2 separate regions of the Homo sapiens genome follow, and region 2 is reported to be linked to region 1. The links are microRNA targets in miRTarBase. Many come from high-throughput screens and were not tested one by one. Region 1 holds a microRNA gene; the other region holds the end of a gene's coding sequence.
Evidence for each region. The annotated mature microRNA hsa-miR-6080 reads UCUAGUGCGGGCGUUCCCG and lies in region 1 at 5,734-5,752, opposite strand. An mRNA with a match to its seed (bases 2 to 7 or 8) in the 3' UTR can be bound and repressed. Matches are read on the target gene's strand: a 7mer-m8 pairs with bases 2 to 8, a 7mer-A1 pairs with bases 2 to 7 and ends in A, and an 8mer does both.

Region 1 (10,983 bases):
AGCTGCCTCCCAGCCCTACCCTTCGCCACACCCACAGCCTGGCCCAAGCACGCAGGGCAGCAGGCTTCGCTCTATGGGCAGGAATGTATTGAACATCTGCTTTGTGCCGTGCCAAGGGGCGGTGCAGTTGTTCAGGGCAGCCCACGCCCTGGGCAGTCATGGCCAGCTCTGGACCAGTTCAGGGGGCAAGACAAGCTCTCCCAGGACTCCTCTGCCTCTACAGAACCATCTGTCTTCCTAAAGAAGAGGTGGCTGCCGGCTCTCTGAGTGGAGCCTCCTGGGGTCTCAGTGTATGCATGGGTTGAGGAGGGTTGTATGAGTTACCGCCCTGCACTGTTGGCATAAGACCAGGCACAAAGTGGGCACCTGGTGGGTGGTAGCTGCCACTGCCACTGCTACTGCCTCGGTTGCTGAAATGATCCCTCTTGTTCCCAGTTATTGCTCATTATCAGCAACCTCTCAATGGAAAAATTCATCCAGACCTTCCTGCAACCCATGTGGGAGTGGAAAACTGAACTGGGAACATTAGTTCTTTTTTTATCGGTGTCCACTGGCCGGGATTCAGCCCTGAATGGGCCTGGGAGTGAGTTTTTAAAATTATACAGTCTTGGCCGGGTGCGGTGGCTCACGCCTGTAATCCCAGCACTTTGGGAGGCCGAGGCGAGTGAATCACTTCAGGTCAGGAGTTTGAGACCAGCCTGGCCAACATGGTGAAACCCCGTCTCCACTAAAAACACAAAAGTAAGCCAGGTGTGGTGGTGGGCACCTGTTATCCCAGCTACTTGGGAGGCTGAGGCAGGAGAATTGCTTGAATCTGGGAGGCAGAGGTTGCAGTGAGCCTCACACCAGTCTGGGCAACAGAGCAAGGCTCTGTCTCAAAAATAAATAAATAAATAAGTAAATGCTTTTTAAAATACAGGTAAGAAATCTTTAATGAATCTCAAGCAGCATTTATAAAAAATGCAGTAGGACAGAGAATATCAGTGTGCATTGTGTGACGTATGGGTAAGCACTGTTTCGAGAATCTCCTGTTCCGGGATGGAAAGGCACAGCGTGCGTGCATGGGTTACACAGTATGTCACAGCCATATCGTGGGTTCTGGTCAAAAGTGCTGGCCAGCGTGGCCACAGGTCAACCTCCAGCCCAGCCGGCACCAGCAGGTGTGCTGCTCTCTCCCCAGGTGTGCCAAGTGCAAGACCGTCTTCCACCAGAGCTGCCAGGCTGTGGTGAAGAAGGGCTGCCCCCGCTGTGCTCGCTGACGCAAGTACCAGCAACAGAACGTTTTCGCCTGATGCCCCTCTGCTGATCCCACTCTGAAGGCCGGGGGTGAGTGTGGCTCAGCCATCCCAGCTGGGTTTCCTATCAGCCCAGGATACTCACCGTGTCACAGCTGTGTCCCCTTGTCAGGAAGACCTCAGATGTGACCAGAGCACTGGCCTCCTACAGAAAGCCCAGGAAGTCCCCATGATGTCCCCTGGCCCTCCCCCCACCCCTCTGCTGCAGGAGGCGTGGCCACCACCAGATGCTCCCTGTCTGGGGCAGGCAGGGCCGTTTACTCACCAGGCCCTGGCTCACCAGCGTCCCGGCGCCTCCGTTAGGGCTGGCCAAACACTGTGGAAAGGGGACTTGGGGAACATTTTCAATTCCACATTCCTGATTAAAAGGTCTGGTTTTTTAAGGTGGGTTTTTCCCATTCATATTTCAACAGAAAGTATTTTTTATTCTTGACCGTATGCGAGTCACCCATGAAATCCAGACATTTTCACCCCCAGCGGATGCACAGGAGCCTCTCAGGCCTGTCCTAGAGGCAGCGGGTGGCTGTTGGGCAGGCCACTGCTGGGACAGGGCCTGTGGGCCCACCCAGTGCCTTTCCTGGCCCTCACTGCCAGTGCCAAACCGCCCCTCAGCAGGGCAGGGCCAGTCCTGGTGACCCCACTTCCTCTCTGTCTCCTCTTTACTCCCCACCCCAGTGCGTCTCACCTGCTGAGCCCACCCCTTTCTCAGCGTCAGAGCCCCTAGCTCTTCTCTAGCCTGGGGCCTTGGCCCCATTAGGAGAAGGAGAAATGACTGGAAACCAGCACTTTCAGCACTATGAGCCCTCCTCGGTTTAGGGAGGGTCGCCGTCTTGCCCACCCCCAATCCCCGTGCCCTCCTCACCCCTCTACAGACAGGGGCACTGCTGCAGATGCTCCAGGCCCACCTTGGTGGGTGCCCGGGGTCACCCTCTCTGCCTGACTGACCCCTGCCAGGGCACAGATAGGCAGGACCCTAGAGACAGCAGGCAGCTGGGCCCTGCACTGTGGAGAAATGACCTGGTCCTTCGCCCTAAGCTGTGCAGGGCATGCGGGGGAGCTGCCCTGTGGATGCAGCCGCCGCCTCACAAAGCTATGAATTCCCAAAGCATCACTGAACTTGCCCAGCCAGGACACTGGAGACTGAAGAACTTCCCCGGAGCAGGACTGCCTTTGAAGGGGCCTTGGTGCTGGGGTGGGAGCCTGGAATTGTTTTTGAAGTGAAGTTCAGACCCTCCAGGCTTCAGGGAAATGTGGGTTTGCTGGTCTCTCTGTCGCCTTCTCCCACCTCTCCTGGACCCAGCGGGCCCTCAGTCCTAGCTGTCTTACCTGCGCTCAGCTTGGAGTCTGAGGCCTCAGGTGGAGATCCACCTGTCACTGTCAGAGATGAGCCCACCCCCACCCCTCCCTGGGGGTGATCAGCTGCTGAGTCACCCACCCAGCTTTGGAGCTGGATGCCTGTGCAGAACAGAGGTGGCGGTGGCAGGCAGGTGGAGGCTGTGCATAGCTTCTCCCGGTCATGGCGCACACCTGTGCCCAGATGCCAATACCTCCTAAGCCAGGAGCTGGGTTATGCACCTGCCATGACCACAAGCCTGGCCTGGTCAGAGCCCTCATTGCCCCATCCCTGAGTGGGCAGGAGTCTGGCCTGGGGAGGGCTTAGGCCTGTGAGGATTCTTCCCGAAGGCGCCCTTGGAAACAGACTAATTCTCAGGGAAATCAGATTGCGGTAAAATGGGATGGAAACAGACAACATTCAGATCTGCGATTTCCTGTCCTTGAAGGCCCCTTTCAGATTACAAGTTGGCACCCTCTGCCCATCTAGGTGCCACAGCTTCCCCCAAGGACAATAGATGGTAGGGCCAGAGAAGAGAAGAGAAACTGGGGGAGGGAGGCCCAGTGGAGGGCCATGGCACATGACCTGGTTCTGCCCTGCCAGTGGGCTCAGCCCCTCTCCATCCTCAGCCAAGCGCCTCTGAGGGCACTTGTTTCCCCTTCTCACCCATGTTTTTTTGAGACGGAGTCACTCTGTCACCCAGGCTGGAGTGCAGTGGTGTGATCTCGACTCACTGCAACCTCCGCCTCCCAGGTTCAAGCAATTCTCTTGCCTCAGCCTCCCGAGTAGCTGGGACTTCCCCTTCTCTTCTGCCTGAAGGAGGACGGGTGGTTTGGAGATTCCAGTCCAAACCCCAAGAGCTCATCACATAATAAAAGTGTCATAATAGCTGATATAGGCAGGCACTGTGGCTCACGCCTGTAATCCCAGCATTTTGGGAGGCCGAGGCAGTCAGATCATTTGAGGTCAGGAGTTCAAGACCAGCCTGGCCAATATAGAGAAACCCCGTCTCTGCAGAAATACAAAAATTAGCTGGGCATGATGGTGGGTGCCTGTAATCACACCTACTCAGGAAGCTGAGGCAGGAGAATCACTTCAACCCAGAGACAGAGGTTGCAGTGAGCCGAGATTGTGCCACTGCACTCCAGCCTGGGCGACAGAGCCAGACTCCATCTCAAAAAAAAAAAAAAAAAAAAAAATAGCTGATATATGGTGTACGCTGGGCATGTGGTAAGCACTGCTTAGTGGATCTCATTTAATCTTCCCAATAATCCAGTGAAGTGGGTGTTACTATTGATAGGAAAGAAAGCTGAGCTGCAGAGATAAGGCAGAACTCCCAAGGCCTACCAGCCGCCAAGCAGCAGAGTGGGGCATCATACCTGCCTGACCCCACGCAAAGACCATCACCACTGCCAGCCGCTGCCTGGCTGTGCTGCAGGTGGGGAGAGACCTAAAAGGTAGGGAGGGAGAGAAGATTCCTCCAGTCACTATTTTCTAAGCATGTCGGGCACCAAAGACCAATGCTGAGTTCTGCTGTGTGCCCACCCTGGAGGGTCCCAAAGTGCCACCAGGCCTCAGACACACTGAGATTCTCAGAGGAAGTGTAGACTCACGGGTGGGCAACGCCTAGCAGGGGCAAAGATACAGAGGTAAGGGAGTTCCAGAACGAGTGTGGCCAGATTCAGCTTCCCATCCAACCCTGGGCCCCCAGGAGGTGGAGTCAAGAGGGGCCATGGCCTGGGGTGTGGGCTTCTCTTCGTCCCAGAACACTGGCCTGAATCAGCCAGCTCTCCGCACACACAGCCACGTCCATAGGCACAACTGTTTCTGGGGGCCCCTGAGGGCAGGGGGTCTGCTAGGGCTGTGGTTTGTGACGTGTGGAGTGAGCGCAGGCTCAGATCAGGGCGAGGCAGCTTGTCCAGAGAGGCAGATAATTCCCAAACAGAAGACCCCCAAGGCGGAGGGCCCTGGGGCTGGACTCCTGGCCCCCAGGAGGTTGTTCTGAGCTTACCCTGTGGACGGATTGGAGGGTGGACCTCTTTCCCCGCAAGGGTCAAGAGGGAGTGGGGGATGGTGGGAAGGCAATCTGGCCAGGAGAAGCTGCGCGGGAGACTCCCGCCATCCCCAGTCCCACCATCTCAGCCCCGCGGCCTCTTCCTCCCTGGAGACAGCCAGGATCCCGGGAGTGGCCCAGGATCCCGGGAAATGCAGGGGAGGGGGTGGCATCTTTCCTCTTCAGGCGCGGGCCTGGCCCAGAGGCGACAGGAAGCCAGGACGCCGGGGATTGTCTCTCGCAACCGCAGCCCAGCCCCAGTCCGGGAGGAAGTTCTGCCGGGCGCTCTCCGCCGGTGCCTCACTGGTTATAGTGCTATACAGGAAACCTGGCAGCGCCGGAGCCGCGCGGTCGAGGAGGGAGCGCGGGACGCCGAGCCCACGCGCGCCTGCCGGGACAAGTGGAGACGAGGCCGGCGAGCGGACGCCCCGAGGTGCCCGGGCAGGCAGTGGGCCGCCGAGCGGGAGTTGAGGTGGGAGGTGGGGTGGGGGTGGGGAAAGGGGCAGGGTTGGGGAGGGAAGGGTGCGGCAGGTGGCGGGTCCGCACCCGGGAGCTCCGCGCGCCTGCTCCCCTTGTCTCCGTGCTGGGGCGGGAGCTGCTCGGGCCGCATCCCACGGGGAGGAGAAGGTAGGCGAAGGGCTGCCCTCCCTCTGGAGGCGGGTGGGGAGCAGGCCCAGGCCCCTAGCGCCGACCCAGGCGTTGACGCCGCTGTAGCTTGCGTCGCCTGGGCAGTGGACGCAGGGGACCTCCTGGCGACGGGTGCGCTCTCGCGCTCCAGGGATCCTCTCGGCCCCCACCAATCCCTCCCCTTCTCTGTGTTCCCGCAGGTTGGCGAAGGAGCTGTGGCCGGGTCCCCTTCTTATCCAGCCCGAGACACTGCGCTCCGGTGGGCGTCCCTGCGCTGGGAATCCCTCTCGGAGTTTTTCCAGGCCCGGCCGGGTTGCTCCGGGAAAGGCCCTGTTGGGGGAGGTGGGCCCGGAGCTGGCAGGTCTACAATCCGGTTGGAAGGGCTCGCAGTGGGTGATTCAGGGTGCCAATGACCTCCCCGCGAACGGGAACGCCCGCACTAGACAACCAGCCCCAGACCGGCATTCCCAGAGCCGCAGGCGGGAGGGACGCAGGGACTCCGGGACAGCAAATCCCCGGGGGAGAAGGGAAGGGGGAAGGCGGGACAGGGGAGGCCCACCCTCCTTGGGCTCCGCTAGCGACCAGCCAGCGCCCCTTCAGACGCAGCCTTCCTGGCTCCGGACCCCGGCTTTCTGCTCCGGTCCTCGTCCCAATGCCCCCCAAGGTCCCCAGCAGAGGCATTCAGGTTCCTCCTCGCCCCGCCCAGACGCAGCTTCTTTGGGTATGGGTGACAGCACTCCTGAGCGTCGCTGTCCCTATTCGCTGCCGTTGCCAGCTCCGATTCCGCGAAACCTCTCCGGCACCACCTCGGAAGCCCCGCCCAGGGCGATGGTCCGGGCCTAACCTGCCGGCCCCGCCCACCCGGCCCTTGGGCTCCCTGAGGCCCGCCCAGCAGACGTGAGTGCGCTGCGGGGTCCGGGGGGAAGGGGCGCCGGGGCAGTGTCCACCTTGGGGTTTGTTGGCTCTGGGCAGCTCGATGACCCCGCCTCCGGGGCCCAGTGTGCTTAGTGACTCAAGTGTATACCCTTTCCTAGTCGAGGAACGCTTGACAAAGTGGCGAAGGAGCCCTACGGGAGTCCCGGATTGGACCCTGCTCCTTCGGTCCCTCAGCCTCGGCAAGCCGCGGTCTCCTGGCCCTTGGCCTGGGTCACCTTAGGAGGCAGGAGGAGATGTGGTCAGTGTGGGAGCTTGGAGGGGCCATGCACTTCCGGAGAAGACCACCGACTCATGGCTTTGGTGGAGGGGCGCCGGCAGATTTAGTTAAGCTCTCCCCCATCCCTGACACACCCAGCCGGGGCGGGAGCGGGGCTTGTGACCACTCCGGAGAGCTTTGAGGGCCCCTGCTTTGGGACTCCGCACGGACAGTCACTGTCTCAGAGTGCATTCTCCAGGGGCCACTCTCTTGGGGACACTGTAGGGGTCACAGGGCAGGTGGGCAGCCTCTCTCGGGGGGCGGCGTGAGAGCCGGAGAGCAGGGGGCGGGGGCGGGCCCGGCTCGGGCTCACGTCTGCGTTGAAGCCGCTGGGGAAGGGGAGAGAAACCGAGAGAACCGGTTCCCCCGCCTTGACAGCGGAGGCCCCCACACCAAGGCCCTTGGACTAAGCGGGGCAGGGACAGCCTCCAGGTAGAGCTGTTCGCCGGGGCGCCTGCAGAGCCCGCATCCCAACCCTGACCCCGGGGCCGGGGCGCAGGCTCCTGGAGGGAGGCGTCCAGGCGGGACAGGGCCCGGGGAGCGGCAGGAAATGGGCTGCTCTTCCCACTTGACTGACGGGAAAACTAAGGCACGGTCAACTATCAAGCAAGCGTGGTGTCGACCTTAGAGCAGGTAATCACCCCTCGTTTTAAAGCCAAAGTTTCCCTCGCAGTCGATTTGGACCAAGACTACCCACAATCTCCCCACCGCAGGACTGAAGCGAGGCTGAAATCTTAGAATCAACCCCACGGAATGAAGAGGTTGTCCTAATTCCAGCACTGAGTGTAAGAATGGAAGCCTTGCATGTGATTTTATTCAAGTCCTCATTTTAGAAATGGGAAAACTGAGGCCCGAAGGCGAACGGCAAGTGCAGCATCGGGACTCGAACCCAAGTCTCTCCTCGAGTGCTGGGCTATTCCGGGCTCAGTGGTCTTGACTTCCGCGGCCCTCTTCCTTGTTGCCTGCAGGAAAATGCCGCGGCCGCAATGGCGGCGGATGTGGAGGGGGACGTGTACGTACTGGTGGAGCACCCCTTCGAGTACACCGGCAAGGACGGGCGCCGCGTGGCCATCCCGCCCAATGAGCGCTACCGGCCGCTGCGGCGCAGCACAGAGCACTGAGCATTGGTGGCACGTGCGGCGCAAGCCCGGCGGCCGCCCCTTCTACCTGCCCGCGCAGTACGTGCGCGAGCTGCCTGCGCTGGGCAACCCTGCCGCTGACGCGCCGCCAGGTCCCCCCATCGGGACCCGCAGCCCCTGAGCCGCTCGCCTACGACTACCGGTTCGTGAGCGCGGCTGTGGCAGCGGCCCCCAACGGCCCCCCAGCGGAGCCCCGAGGCGGGGCCAGCTCCCTGTGCGGCCCTGCGCAGCGCGGCGCCGCGAGCCAGCGCAGCAGCCTGGCGCCCGGCCTGCCCGCCTGCCTGTACCTGCGGCCCACGGCGCCCGTGCGGCCCGCGCAGTCCCTGGACGACCTGACGCGCGCCGTCGTCTCGCCTCCCGCCGGCAACCTCGGAAGCAGCGGCAGCTTCAAGGCCTGCAGCGTAGCGGGCTCCTGGGTGTGCCTGCTGCCCCTGTCGCGCAGCGACTCAGAGAACGTCTAAGAGGCCATCCAGGAGGTACGCGGCCCGCCGCGGTAGGAGATCGTGAAGCAGGTACGACCCCGGGCGCGGAGGCGGGGAGGCTCGCTGAGGACAGCGCCCGCAGGGAGCCTGGGCTCGAGGAGACCCACTCCGCTCAGCGTCGGGCATGACGCCCACCTCTGTCGGAAGACTTCGGATGAGCTCCCTCTCCCCAGCCGCGAAACAGTGCAGGCCCCCATCCCTCATCTGCAATTTCCAGGCTCCAAAGCTCCCTGGAAGCCCGAAAGATTTTTCGTAATCAAATTGGTGGCAAAATTGCGCTTGAACTGATATGAGGCTGTTGATGGTCTTTATTTATCGCACTTGTGTGAATATTCATGTTTTGCTGCAGAAATGCAAATAAGCTCGATGGCCGGCTGCTGCCCCAAGCCCTGCTGGGAGGTTATGTAACCTACAGCAGGTGGGTGCCACATATTATCTTTCCAAGTCCCAGCTGTTCTATATTCCGAAGTGCATCTGGGCACGGAACGGGGGATTGCGGGCCTGCCGCCAGCTCAAGGAGCCTGGAGTCAGATGAGAGGGTGGATGTGAAAGTCAGGCGTCTGCTTCCCTTTGAGGGTGCTTCCAGCATTTCAGTTCCTTTTTTTTTTTTTTTTTTTTTTAAAAGAACTCCTGATGGGTTTGTTTCAGAAAGACGTGTTAAGTGAGGTTGTTTTTTCCCCTCTTCAGAATCCAGTTGTGTTAATCTGGGAAATCGAAAATAGAGCACGTTTTACAAACACTCTTGCATCCTCAGAACACTCTGGGGGACTCTGACATTTTGAACTTTAGGAACTTTTCAGGGAGGGGCAGCCCGAGGGGGAGAAAAGGATGCTTAGAACCGTTCTGCCATCTGCCACCGGCCGTGTGATGATCTAGAGGCAGCTCTCTTCCTCTCTCAGGGTCTCGGTTTGTTCTTTAGCACAAAGGGAGGGGATGGACAGATGACCTCTGAACCTTGGGAGCCTCTGATTTATTTCGCTGTGCCTGATGTCATTACCATGAACACTGATGCCCACCATGTGCCAGGACTGAGTCCGGGATGCCCAGACGAAGGAGACACGCCTCCGTAGGCCCGCTGCTGGGTGTTCCCTCCGCCTGTCTCGTTACAATGCAGAGCTCAGGTTTTGAGACTAGGGAAAGGGGAACTGGATTTTGCTGGGGCAGCTGCCAGCTGCTGACAGCCACTTAACTTACAAGCGAGGACCACCCCCTCCCCCCCCAGGCCCAGCGTCCTCTGGTGTAAGCACAATACCTAAGGATTAGGGTTGTGAGCCTTAAATGAATTAAGGCTTCGAAGCGCTTGGCAGCAGCAGGGGGTCCACCCAGACTGGGTCATCCTCGTTTGGCTTCCCTGGGTCTGCGCCGCCTTCACTCTGGCTCCTGCAGCGGCAGCCCGCCGCCTTGTGGCCAGGGTGGAAAACGGCACCCGGCGGGCGGGGCTGGAGACCGCGGCTGGTTCCTGTTTCGCGCCCCTGCCAGCCAGCCAGGCAGCTTCTCTGGGATGGGTGGCTGGATGCCAGCGCTCTTCCCCCGCAGCGCCCCTCCGTTTCCTGCGCAGGCTCCCGGTGGCGCACTTCCCGGCCTCTCCACATTCTCTGTCCTAGTGACGGTGGGACGGTGCCTGCCCGTCTGAGCGGAGCCCCTGGAGGTGGGGGAATGGCCTTGCTCTTTGAACCTCGCATCTGGCCCAGGGTCTGGCTCAGACAGAGTGCACAGAGAGTGTATGTTGAATAGGGCGGAGGTGCGGCAGCCCCTTACCTATGAGCCAGGCCTCTGTAGGTCTGCCCAAGGGCCACCACCCCAGGCCCCAGGACCAAAGAGGAAGGAGACTGCCCAGGTCCTGACATCTCCTGAGAAGACAGATCACCCCGGCTGCCAGGGCGCCTGCCAGGTGGCCCCTCTGCCCATCCTTCCTCCAGCTCCCAGCAGGTTCCCAGTTGCAGTGGCATATGGGGGGAGGGGCACAGGTGATGAGGGCAGGGGACTTACCCAGGGGGGAACTAGGACATTGGCCAGAGACAGGCTGCTCCCTGGCCCCACTTGTGGCCCTAATTCACTATGTGACCTCCACAAGTCACTTTGCGTCTCTGGTTCAGTTTCCTCCCCTGTGCAATGAGTGCAATAATACCACGTTCCCTGCCACGGAGCTTTATTCAAGAGGCAGCTGTGGCTCTCCCTGGTGCTCCACCCCCAACAAAGTCCAGGGTAGGGAGTTGGTCCTGCCCCCACAAGGGAACCCCACCCCTGCCCTTAGTTGTCCCAGGCGGCATTTCCCCACCATAATCCTCCAGGCCCATTCACTCGTTCATTAGGCATGAACTAGCCAAATAGCTGCAGAGCCCTGGTGAGCCTTTGGATCTAGAGAGGACTCAGGCACAGCCACGGTCCTGGGGGACTCACCCTCTTGGATAGGAGGCCAGCAACAGAAGACATGGGGCCGGGGCTCAGAGTGGAGCATGGGGTTGAGAGTGGGTGCCCACCGGGGCAGGGCCTCATGAGCCCTTGCCAGGAATGTGCACGTTATCCTGCAGCTGCTGTGAGGCTTTTAGCAGAGACAGGAATGGGATTGAGAAAAAAATCCCTGTGGCCAGGGCCTCAAGAATGGCCGAAGCTCTTGGTGGTCTCGTGGGCATGTGGTGGTAACAGAGGTTTGGGAGATGGATGGGCAGGGTCTGGGGGCCGAGGGAGGTGGGAGGGAAATCGGGTTGAGTTCAGATTCCCAGCTGGCACTTGTGGGCAGACAGTGGTGCTGCTTACTGAGTTGGGGGGTGGGGGGGACTTGGGGAGGAGCAGGGTGGAGAAAGGTGGGGCCTGCCTGGATTTAGGTGCCAGACAAAGGGAAGAGAAGCATGAGAGTGCTGG
Region 2 (9,980 bases), not on the chromosome of region 1:
ATTTGCAAATAGTTTAATCTGCATTGATACAGTCTAGGTACATTTTGTGTAATTAATTGCTATATATTTAATTATTGTAGCTAATTTATTAAAACCTACAGTAAACAAAACAGTGTATTTTGCTATATCACCTTTTACATTTTAATCACACTGCCACTGTCTCACAACATTCCTGAAACATATCAGTATGTGAAATTCGAGATACAGTGGAGCTTAGAGAGGCAGACTGGTCCTCAGAGACTTAAGTGAAAGATGTAACCAAAGAATAATTACCTTTATTGATGTCCAGGCTCTGTTGTGGTCATTTACACTGTAATGTTCATCTTCTTAGAAATAATGTTGCAAAAAAATAAAATAAAGCTTATAAGCCTCGGCAGCTTTAGCTGCTGGTTAGACTCTTTGGTCTTCAGAGATGTTTCGGAATCTCTTTGATCCCAAACCTAAATTATGTGATTCAAGGTAAACGTGGATCATTCAAATTTTAATTTTAACTCAGAGTCAGTAAGAAGGCACAAATAATTAAAAGCTGTGTAGATCACTATAATCCAAAAGTCTTTAAAAACTACCAGCAGTGTTTTGTTAATCATAAAAAATTACCATTATATGTTAATATGAGAAATGGTAAAAGATAACAAGACAATTCAGATTCCCAGCACTCAGCTTTCTGAATTAACAAAAGACTTCTTGATAGATACCTAGTTGTTCATGATGTCATGTGTGATAATGAAATCTGAGACTGAGGTCATTCCTGCCCTCCTCAAATAATTGTCTAAGTGTAGCAACCCACTTTCTGCTAAATTGTCTGCATCCCTGTTTTGTTCCATCAAGTTAGGGACATTCCCTCAGCTGTTGTCATGTCAGAGTTTGGGTTATTGGAGATGTTACCACACAAGAGCCTGTAAAAATGATAGCTCCCTAGAAAAAATGACTGGCCCTGGGCTGAGCAGGTGACCACAAAGGCTCTGGCTGCTGGGATTGTTACCTGAAAAGTCTGATTTGTTCTATGCACTGTGGAACAGCCACATAAGCATGTGGCAGAATCCTACCAAATACACAGCCCCTGTCTCTGGGCTGTCTCTGTGGGCTGTGGAGAGTGGAACAAGCAGATCTTCCTATCAGCAGCCCCTCTGTTACCACCACATAGACGTGGGCCAAGGCATGCCTAGTGCTGAAAGTGATGTTTGGCAATTGCTCATTTTTTCTCACTGGAGTAATCATGACATTCAGGTTTTTCCCAATGTTGTTCATTTGTCCCTCCCTTCTTTCTCCTGTCACATATTATTTTTAATCTTTATAAAACAATATTGAGGAAACTTCAGCTCTCTGAGGCCAGAGTCTAATCCCTTTAGCCCTCCAGACCATTATCTGAGCATCAGTTCAGATCGTCTTTGCTCCAGACCCACCACAAGCCCCATTTAACTCCTCTCCACCACCAGTGTCACCCATTCACGAAGATCCTCACAGTTCAGATATTCCTGTGGTTTACAAGGGGTTGGTGTCTTTTCAATAAAAAGGGCATATAAAATGACCTAAGGTAGATAGCATGGTGGCTTTACCACAGTCCTGTGGAGTAGGCAGACATGGGCATTCAGAACAAGATTTCCATGAAGATTTGGGAGAACATATTAAGGGAACCTATATAGAAACATCTACTTACTCACTTGGCTTTTTCTCCTTTTTCTTTCCCAGAAACTCATTATATATACAGCGACATGCACCAAATGTCCAGTAAAAATGGAATTTGGATGGAATTGGATACAACCTAAGTCACTGTGTTCATAGGCTTTATTTGTTTATGTTTATAATAATTATATCTAAATTCTATTGCCTGGAAACATATTTCATCAGCTTGATCTTCTTTTTAAATTGGTCTTCCTTTTCTGGTGAACTGAGTTGCATTCATATCTGATCATGTCACACTTGTTATTAGTCCATTAAGGTGATTGCTGAACATTGTAGAAATTTGACCGGAACAGGGCCAATATAAAGAGCTCATGGCAAAAGCAAGGAGAGGGTAAGAGGGACAGAATGAATGAAGGGACATCCTGCCTTGAATGTATCCTTCCACTGTGATACCTCAGCTTGTGAGAGAGAACCTTTTATTTATTTTATTTTATTTTATTTTATTTGAGATGGAGTCTCGCTCAGTCGCCCAGGCTATAGTGCAATGTCGCGATCTCGGCTCACTGCAAGCTCCGCCTCCCGGGTTCACGCCATTCTCCTGCCTCAGCCTCCCGAGTAGCTGGGACTACAGGTGCCCGCCACCACGCCCGGCTAATTTTTTTTGTATTTTTAGTAAAGACGGGGTTTCACCGTGTTATGCAGGATGGTCTCGATCTCCTGACCTCGTGATCTGCCCATCTCGGCCTCCCAAAGTGCTGGGATTACAGGCGTGAGCCACCACGCCCGGCTGAGAGAACTATTTTTTAAGGAGGTAGTGATAGAAGTGGAGTGTATGGCAGTGATTTTCAAGTGGGTGATGGTGGAATTGATGGAATCACACTTCCCTGATGTCAGTGGTTTTCTGTCGTGGCTGCACAAGGGAATCATCTGCAAAGCTTTTAAAATATTCTTACGCCTGAGTCCCACCCAGAGAGATTTTGATTTAGTTGGTCTGGTGTGGTGCCTGGGAAGTGGAATTGTAGAAACCTCCCCAGATTAATGTAATGTGCAGCTGAGGTTGAGAACCACTGCTCTAGCTGGCTGTCTCAGAATCCTGGGGAAAGGAAGGGCATGTGTAGCTTAAAAAATAATATTTTAAATTCTTTTATTTCATTTGAGACACAATATTGACTCTATTCAAAATGTTTAGTAACATTAAATGAGGATGTGATGGTTTTTGTATCAAAAGATGGCTGCTGTTAAAAAGGTTGAGACACAGGTTTTGAGGAAACAGAGAGCTAAAAGTTGGAGTGTTTATTCTATCCACTTTTTAGACTTTGCAAGAGTGTGCATCCACAATCACATATATATGGATGGAATCACTGAATCTTTTTCATCTCCTATTCAGAATACATCTGCTTCCTGCTTTCACAATGTGCAATTTTGCTCTTTTCTGTTGTGCAGCTATGGGAGACATCCATTTAAGATCAACTGTTTACATGTGATACATCGAAAACTGTTTACTTCAACTTTTATAGAAACCCAGGCTCATGGAATCACTGCAAATCTATCTGCTCTTCAGACAATACGAAGACCCTCTGAGATGCTACAGAGGAGAGGAAGCGGAGTTTCACATCTGGTTACCATTTTCTTTTTGTCATTGGCTTAGGATTTAACTAACCATGAAAAGAACTACTGAAATATTACACTATAACATGGAACAATAAAGGTACTGGTATGTTAATGGATAATCCGCATGACAGATAATATGTAGAAATATTCATAAAGTTAACTCACATGACCCAAATGTAGCAAGTTTCCTAAGGTACAATAGTGGATTCAGAACTTGACGTTCTGAGGCACATCCTCACTGTAAACAGTAATGCTATATGCATGAAGCTTCTGTTTATTGTTTTCCATATTTAAGGAAACAACATCCCATAATAGAAATGAGCATGCAGGGCTAAGGCATATAGGATTTTTCTGCAGGACTTTAAAGCTTTGAAAGGCCAATATCCCATAGGCTAACTTTAAACATGTATTTTTATTTTTGTTTTGTTTTTTACTTTTCATATTTATATTAGCATACAAGGACAATTGTATATATGTAACATTTTTAAAATTTTAAAAAAATGCAGCTGTTACACACAAGTGTATTTTGCCAAATGCCTAAAAATTCCGTCACAATCACATCATCGTCATCCATCCAGTGATCTTCAAAGACTATAAGCAGGTAATGTAAATATAGTGGTCAATGCTGTAAATGTGTCTCTCCATAATTCGTATTTGTCCAAAACATGTGATATCCCTTTAACCTGTGCACAGTCTGGAGGCAGTTTTATTGAGTGAGTAGTTGAGTGAGAGAACAAAATGCCCAGCAAAACTTCTGGCCTCCACAGTTTGCTGATGCAGGAGCCCACTCTGCTGCCGATGGGCTGCTCCCTGGAAATCATCTATCCCATCCGTCCATCCCATCTCATCCCAGTGAGCCAGCCCCTCAGCAGTGTGTGCTGCTGAGATTAAGCAAGTGCACCAAAGACACATGAGACAACGTACTGCCAGTGAGCTGGTAGCTTCTGGTTTGCCAATACTCTAACCCTTTGTGGCCTGAAGTTTTGTTCCTTGGCAAAACTTTGTAGTCACCCTTATCTGTGAAATGAATGACTTGTTTTAACAAAAACAACTTTGACACTGTTGATTAAGAATATTTGTCATCACTGGGATGTGAATCCCAACAAGTCATTCTGCACTGACTCTGAAGCAAGATGACGGAAGATTCTACTGTTTGAGTTGAGCAGCTTCAACCATTCATAAAGGGTTAAGTTAGATCTAAACCACAGAGATGCAGCATCTGCGAAGTTACACTAACAGCTGGTGGGGGAAAGAATCTGATGCTTTGAAACATATATTTTTAATCCATAGGAAAATAAGATTCTATTTTAAAAGACCCTTCTTTAAAACCAAAGTTTGATAGCTGTTATAATGGCAGATCTGTCATTCCAAAAGAAAGCTAGCTACCCTAGTGAGGCTGGAGATTGATGGGCTCAATCACATGGTCTGCTCTGAAGTATACTTCTGATTTCCTCATTTGCTGTGTGTTCTTAAGAGGAATGGAATCTGCAGACAGGTTTTCAGATATACTCTCTTAAATTTGATCCTCTCCCATAGTATCCATGGACAAAATCCATATCATCTTCATATGTAATCAATTTGATTACATATCATGCCCAAACTGAAGGGCCGAGTTAGAAGGCAGCATTTTATACTGTGTGTTTATGTCTTCTGTAATGGACCTCTCTTTTGAAAGTCTTTGAAATGTTTGGAAAGCAATTTAATGATCCAAAATTACATAATGTAAAACAGCATTTTTCATGACAGGAAGGGATGTGATTGTTGATATGACCATAAAGCGATCCATCAGGCCAAGGTTTGGGTGAGTGTTGGGCAGTGTTGCCACATAGCTCAAGCCAAGAACAGAAGGGCAGACAGATTGAAAGATGTAGCAAATAAAGTGACTTTTTACCAAGATCACTGTAACGTGCACTGAATGTTTCCTGGTACTGAGTGTACAAAAGGCTAATGCTATAAGGTTTATTTTGACTATAAAAGAGTTTATAGATTTGAATATAAGGTGCCTCATGTAAATATGCTTCCTAGTTACAGGTACACAAACTCTAATTTGAAAGAATCCACAAATGGCTAGCTGAGAAGTTAACAGATCTCTATCATTCGTCTGTGTGTCTTTCTTCCCTCACCTATTTTTACATGAAATTATTATTTCAAATGAAAATCATGATCATGTGCCTTTTGGGAGACATGGTTTCTCTAGAGGTATATAGTTTGTAATTACCCGCCTTGGTAATAACCTTCCTGTGGAACTGACTAAAAATTTTTGTTTTATTTGTAGAGATTATGATTTGAGGTATACAGTAACTTTAATGTTCTATTCTTGGAATCTACTCTATCTCCCATGTTTAAACATTCTTAGAGCCATTTGTGGGATTCATTGACAAATTTATAGTCTCAAGGGAGAGTTTCAAGAAGTATCTATATGTATACTCATGGTTGGGGTTCTAGAGGCATTACATCTAAATATTTATGACTTTTCATCCACCGAGGTAGGTAGCATTAAATATACAAGCACAGCATTATTTCTCTTTAAATATCTATTTTGGAGAGAAACTTTGAGGCCGTATCACAGTTTATATCATGCAACTAATATTTATATTTCCCAATCCACTACAAAATCATTGCTAAGCAGAAGAGAGCAGTTATTTGGCCTTTATGTTCCATTGTATGCCTTTTTCCCCTCTTCCAGTTTTATGCATTGATAAGACTACAGATTGGCACCCTGCTGCCTGAGAAGTTCCATTTATCCATAGTCATTGCAGTGCAGTAAACCCTGATTTAAAGGAACATTTAAGTCTCTCCAGTAAGTGTGAACAGGAAGGCATGGGATAGAAGAGAGTCCTTATGGAGTGGACTGGCCACATGAACTGTCCTCCAGCCACTCTTTATTTAGATGGGAAGTGGCATGGTCCTCTGAACGCTGCAGGCTGGAAATGATCCCCAGGGCACATGCAATCTGTGGAAAGGAATACATCGGACAGTGCAACATGGTGAGGGCTTTCAATTTGCTGTGGTTGCTGTATTTTTAACAAGACACCCGGAGCTTCGATTAGGAATAACCTATCATTAGAGTTGTTCCTTTAAAAAATGTTGATGAATAAAGCAAATGTGGGTTTAAAATGCCAACTTATTTTTCACTTTGATATTGGTGCTTTATTAAGTGATACCATAGTTTCTCTCTCTTTTCCCTGTTACTTTAAAAAGAATTTTAAAATTGTGTTTGTATATAAGGTCAGTCTGGCATAGAATTTCTGAAAGTAACATTAATAGGATTTCTAAAGAAGTTGTCAGAAAGACAAAATTGGATATTCTCTGCACTTTCAGAGAAGGACTATTTATGTTTGAATTTCATAACAGGCTTACATTTCTTTTCTATTGATTCCCTTGCATATCTACATAATTTAATCCTGTCTATTGTCCCAGATCTCTTGTGGCTACTTTACCTGTTACCTTTTTTGGGATTTTGTTCTTTATGTTTTACAGTTACCTTCGGACCAGAAGATATATGGTATTTTTATTCACTTTTTTCAGTGTTTTAAAATAAGGTTTGTTCATTTATTCATTTTATCCATTCATTTCCTATTGTCGTATAGTTCTAACCATATATATAGTACTTTAAATATTTTCTTATGTTATTATTTAACACAATAATAAATTCTTATCTAAAGAAAAGATTATTTTACTTTATTTTACTTAAAGGAAAGAGAATTTATTGGCAGGATATTGAGTAGCTTGTAGAGTATATGGAAGGGGAGAGCCAAGTTAGGAACTGGCAGGAGCGAGGAGGGACAAGACAGCTGCCTGCACAGTCTGATAGGACACATCTGGCTGCTGCCACTGGATGCCCACATGGGCAGCGTGTTGTAAATATCACCCTACCAGTTGGTAAGTTGGCATGAATTTTCCATGAAACACTTGACTGCCATTTGCAGCATCATATCTACTTTTTATGCACCTAATTATATTTTTCCTTTCACTTTTATGTTTTTTTCTAAAACTGCCACCTAAATACCTTTCCACTCCGTTAAATGTATGGAGTCAAGATAAATTTCTCATTCTTGCTCTACAGTTTAAGATGTATAAGAAGTAAACACTTCCGTGGAATAGGGCTTAATTTGGGGCTCAAATGTTTTGTTTTCCTCCTGAGATGTTTTTGAATGGATAAGACTACTCTGGTTTTGGATGCAGCAACTTTTCTCCTGGCATGGAAGAACTAAGGACTTTGATAAACAGTTTCCCATTGATAGTATAATATAATGAGGGGCCCAGTCTGCTCTTGTGAAAATTGGCTGAGCGGCAGCAGCCCATCCCAGCTGTGTGTGAGTAGCCCCGCTGTTAAAAGTACACCTGCTGGGAATTGTTGGCACATGCTCATAGCATATGCTCTGTGGGGGAGGTGCTTTTAATTCCAAGAGGAGCTTTTCTCCCACATCTGCGGATGCAGAACAAAGATGCAGCAGGACTTTAGAAAACAGGAGTGTTTCTACTGACATTTTATTCATTGCTTTGTTAGTCCCGCAAATGGAGCAACTTCTGGTTGTTTGTAAGCAGAAAAACAAAACATTCAAAACCAAAAACCTAATTAGTACTTTTGTCCTTTATATCCCTAGGATGCTCTAGGGAGTAGAGGTGGCAGGCATCTTTATCTTCACCCACTGGCACATTAGCAGCTTATGCAACTTAGGAAGTCACTGGGAGATGAGTCCTAAAAGCCTGAATTTCAGGATGGGGAGGAGATAAGAAGCAGAGAACTTTGGGAGACCATGGGGCATTTAGTCCTGGCATAGACACAGAATGGATATTCACAGGAAGATTCCTGAGGCCAGATATGCAGGAGAGCACACATTGTCACAAGGGGTGTGGTGGGAAGAGAGGTGCTGGATGCCTAAGACAGACTTCTGTGCTTGGCAGATTGACTGAGTGTTGACTCTGAATACTTTGTGGTCCAGTCCATAATAGGCCAGTCACTCCTGCCTGATGCATCCCTGTTGCACTGTTCATAAAACCTGTATCATATGGGGAAGCTTCAAGGCTGGCAGGCTTTTCATCAAGTAATCATCATTCCATGTTCCTACGTATCCTTGAAATCAAAACCAGGCAATATGTGTGTTTTTGGTTTTGTTTTACAAAAAGGCATACAATGAGACGAATTCTTAAGATAATGCACATACAGAATCATCAATAAAGTTTCAAAGAGTTTATGAAGAAAAGGTATTTTCCTTTCTTGTAAAAAATGTTATATATATATAATATTCTGATCTGCATTCACCTTAGGGCTTAGCCTCTTATTTTATGAATTTTCAGGCTGTGATTTGTGTTGGATGGCTAAGCTCTAAAATAATGCAAATAGCCCCAATCTTTAAATATAGCGGTGCTAAGTTGAACAAGTAACACAATACAGAAAATGCTGATATGAATACTTAGTAATAATACAAAAGTTCCTGCTAAATTATATATGTGTATCACTGCCTGACTAGAAACCCCACTTTTCTTTTCTAATCCAGCACAAAATCAAACTCTGATTCTACAACCAGTCTTTTTAAAGGGCAAAAATGACTCAACACCTTTGTTTTGTATGGAAAACTTTTTTTTTTACACTAACTGCAAAACTGCTTTAAAAAAAGGCTTATTCAGGATAGATAAGCATGTACTCCTTTTTTAACTTGCTGGAAGACTTGCCCCTCCAAACTAGCACCCCCAAAAGACAACTTCTTTCAGAAACGGGGTGTTTTACCTAAACATAGTAGCTTACATGTTAGCCAGCAGTAGGTCGGCACTAGTGTTTTCCACGGTTATCACCTTTGACAGGTGATGTGCATCTATAGATAGTGGAAGCCACCCCATGAGGAGGTGTTAATAGCAGCATGGTTTCACTTTTGGTAATCAGGTAATCATGTGTATATACTTAGATTCGCATTATTTTAACATTTCTCTGCTACTCTGCACTTCAGGTTCGTTAAGCTATTTTAATAATTACTGGGGTTATGGCAAACACCAATGGAAATGTATATGGCAACTGCTTTCCTGAGCAAGTGTGATTTGTTTTATGGCTGTTCAAGTTATAAAATTGTTCTTACATTGTAGGTAAACAAAATCTTGATGTTTTTAAAGGTCACTGTAACTTAAGGTTCAAATTTCTGGCACAGTTTTATTAGTATTCACTTCGGAAGCTAATAAGATACCATGGTTTTCTATGTTACTCCCATTGTAACATTAGTAAAGTGACTTTCAATAAAAGATTTATGTTATTTTGATGCACGACTCTTCTTTTTCTCCCAGCTAGTTTCTCTTTCAGAAGCTTTGTTAGGGGTACAGTCAAGGGATTGTTTCTTTCCTGTTCACTGGTGTCCCAGAAGGGGTCACTAACATGATGAGAAATACAACCCTTTAGCAAAGCCTGAGTGCTCGATTTGTTGCAGTTTCCTCATCTGGATGGCAGAGGTAGTTTACTTATTTATCTATTTGCCTCTCCTTGTAAGCACTTCCTCTCTCACCCTAATGAGGATCAATTTCCTATATCCTGTCCTGTAGACCAGGCAGTGGTGCTTAGTTAATAAGGTCACCTGTGCTGCATTCTAAAGCACTGAGCCTAGGATGGGCTCATGAGTTCATTGCCTAAAAACTGTTCCACCCTGGCTTTTTCATCTTCCAGGCAGGCATTTTACCTACCCGTCATTATTCTGGCATTTGCGGGGTCCTTGCCATCTGTTCATAGGCTGCATAGTTAATAAGTTATAAGTAGTCAAGGT

Region 2: the mRNA of ADAM22 is a reported target of hsa-miR-6080. Seed matches in the 3' UTR shown: 7mer-m8 at 9,005-9,011.

What each region holds. Positions count from the first base shown.
Region 1 is chr17:64,775,565-64,786,547 of GRCh38, reverse strand. MIR6080 (microRNA 6080) reads right to left here and starts at 5,789; the gene lies at 5,724-5,789. It also overlaps the pseudogene ARHGAP27P1-BPTFP1-KPNA2P3, the pseudogene ARHGAP27P1 and the pseudogene PLEKHM1P1. RefSeq lists enhancers at 1-372, 1-438, 810-1,569, 7,412-8,080, 8,081-8,750 and silencers at 5,315-5,414, 6,183-6,232, 7,486-7,545, 7,706-7,925.
Region 2 is chr7:88,193,405-88,203,384 of GRCh38, forward strand. It overlaps ADAM22 (ADAM metallopeptidase domain 22), which reads left to right. Exons shown (of 32, transcript NM_001324418.2): 32 at 3,067-9,485. The coding sequence ends at 3,087. Among named protein-coding and RNA genes, the nearest start is that of SRI-AS1, 18 kb to the right of the region's middle.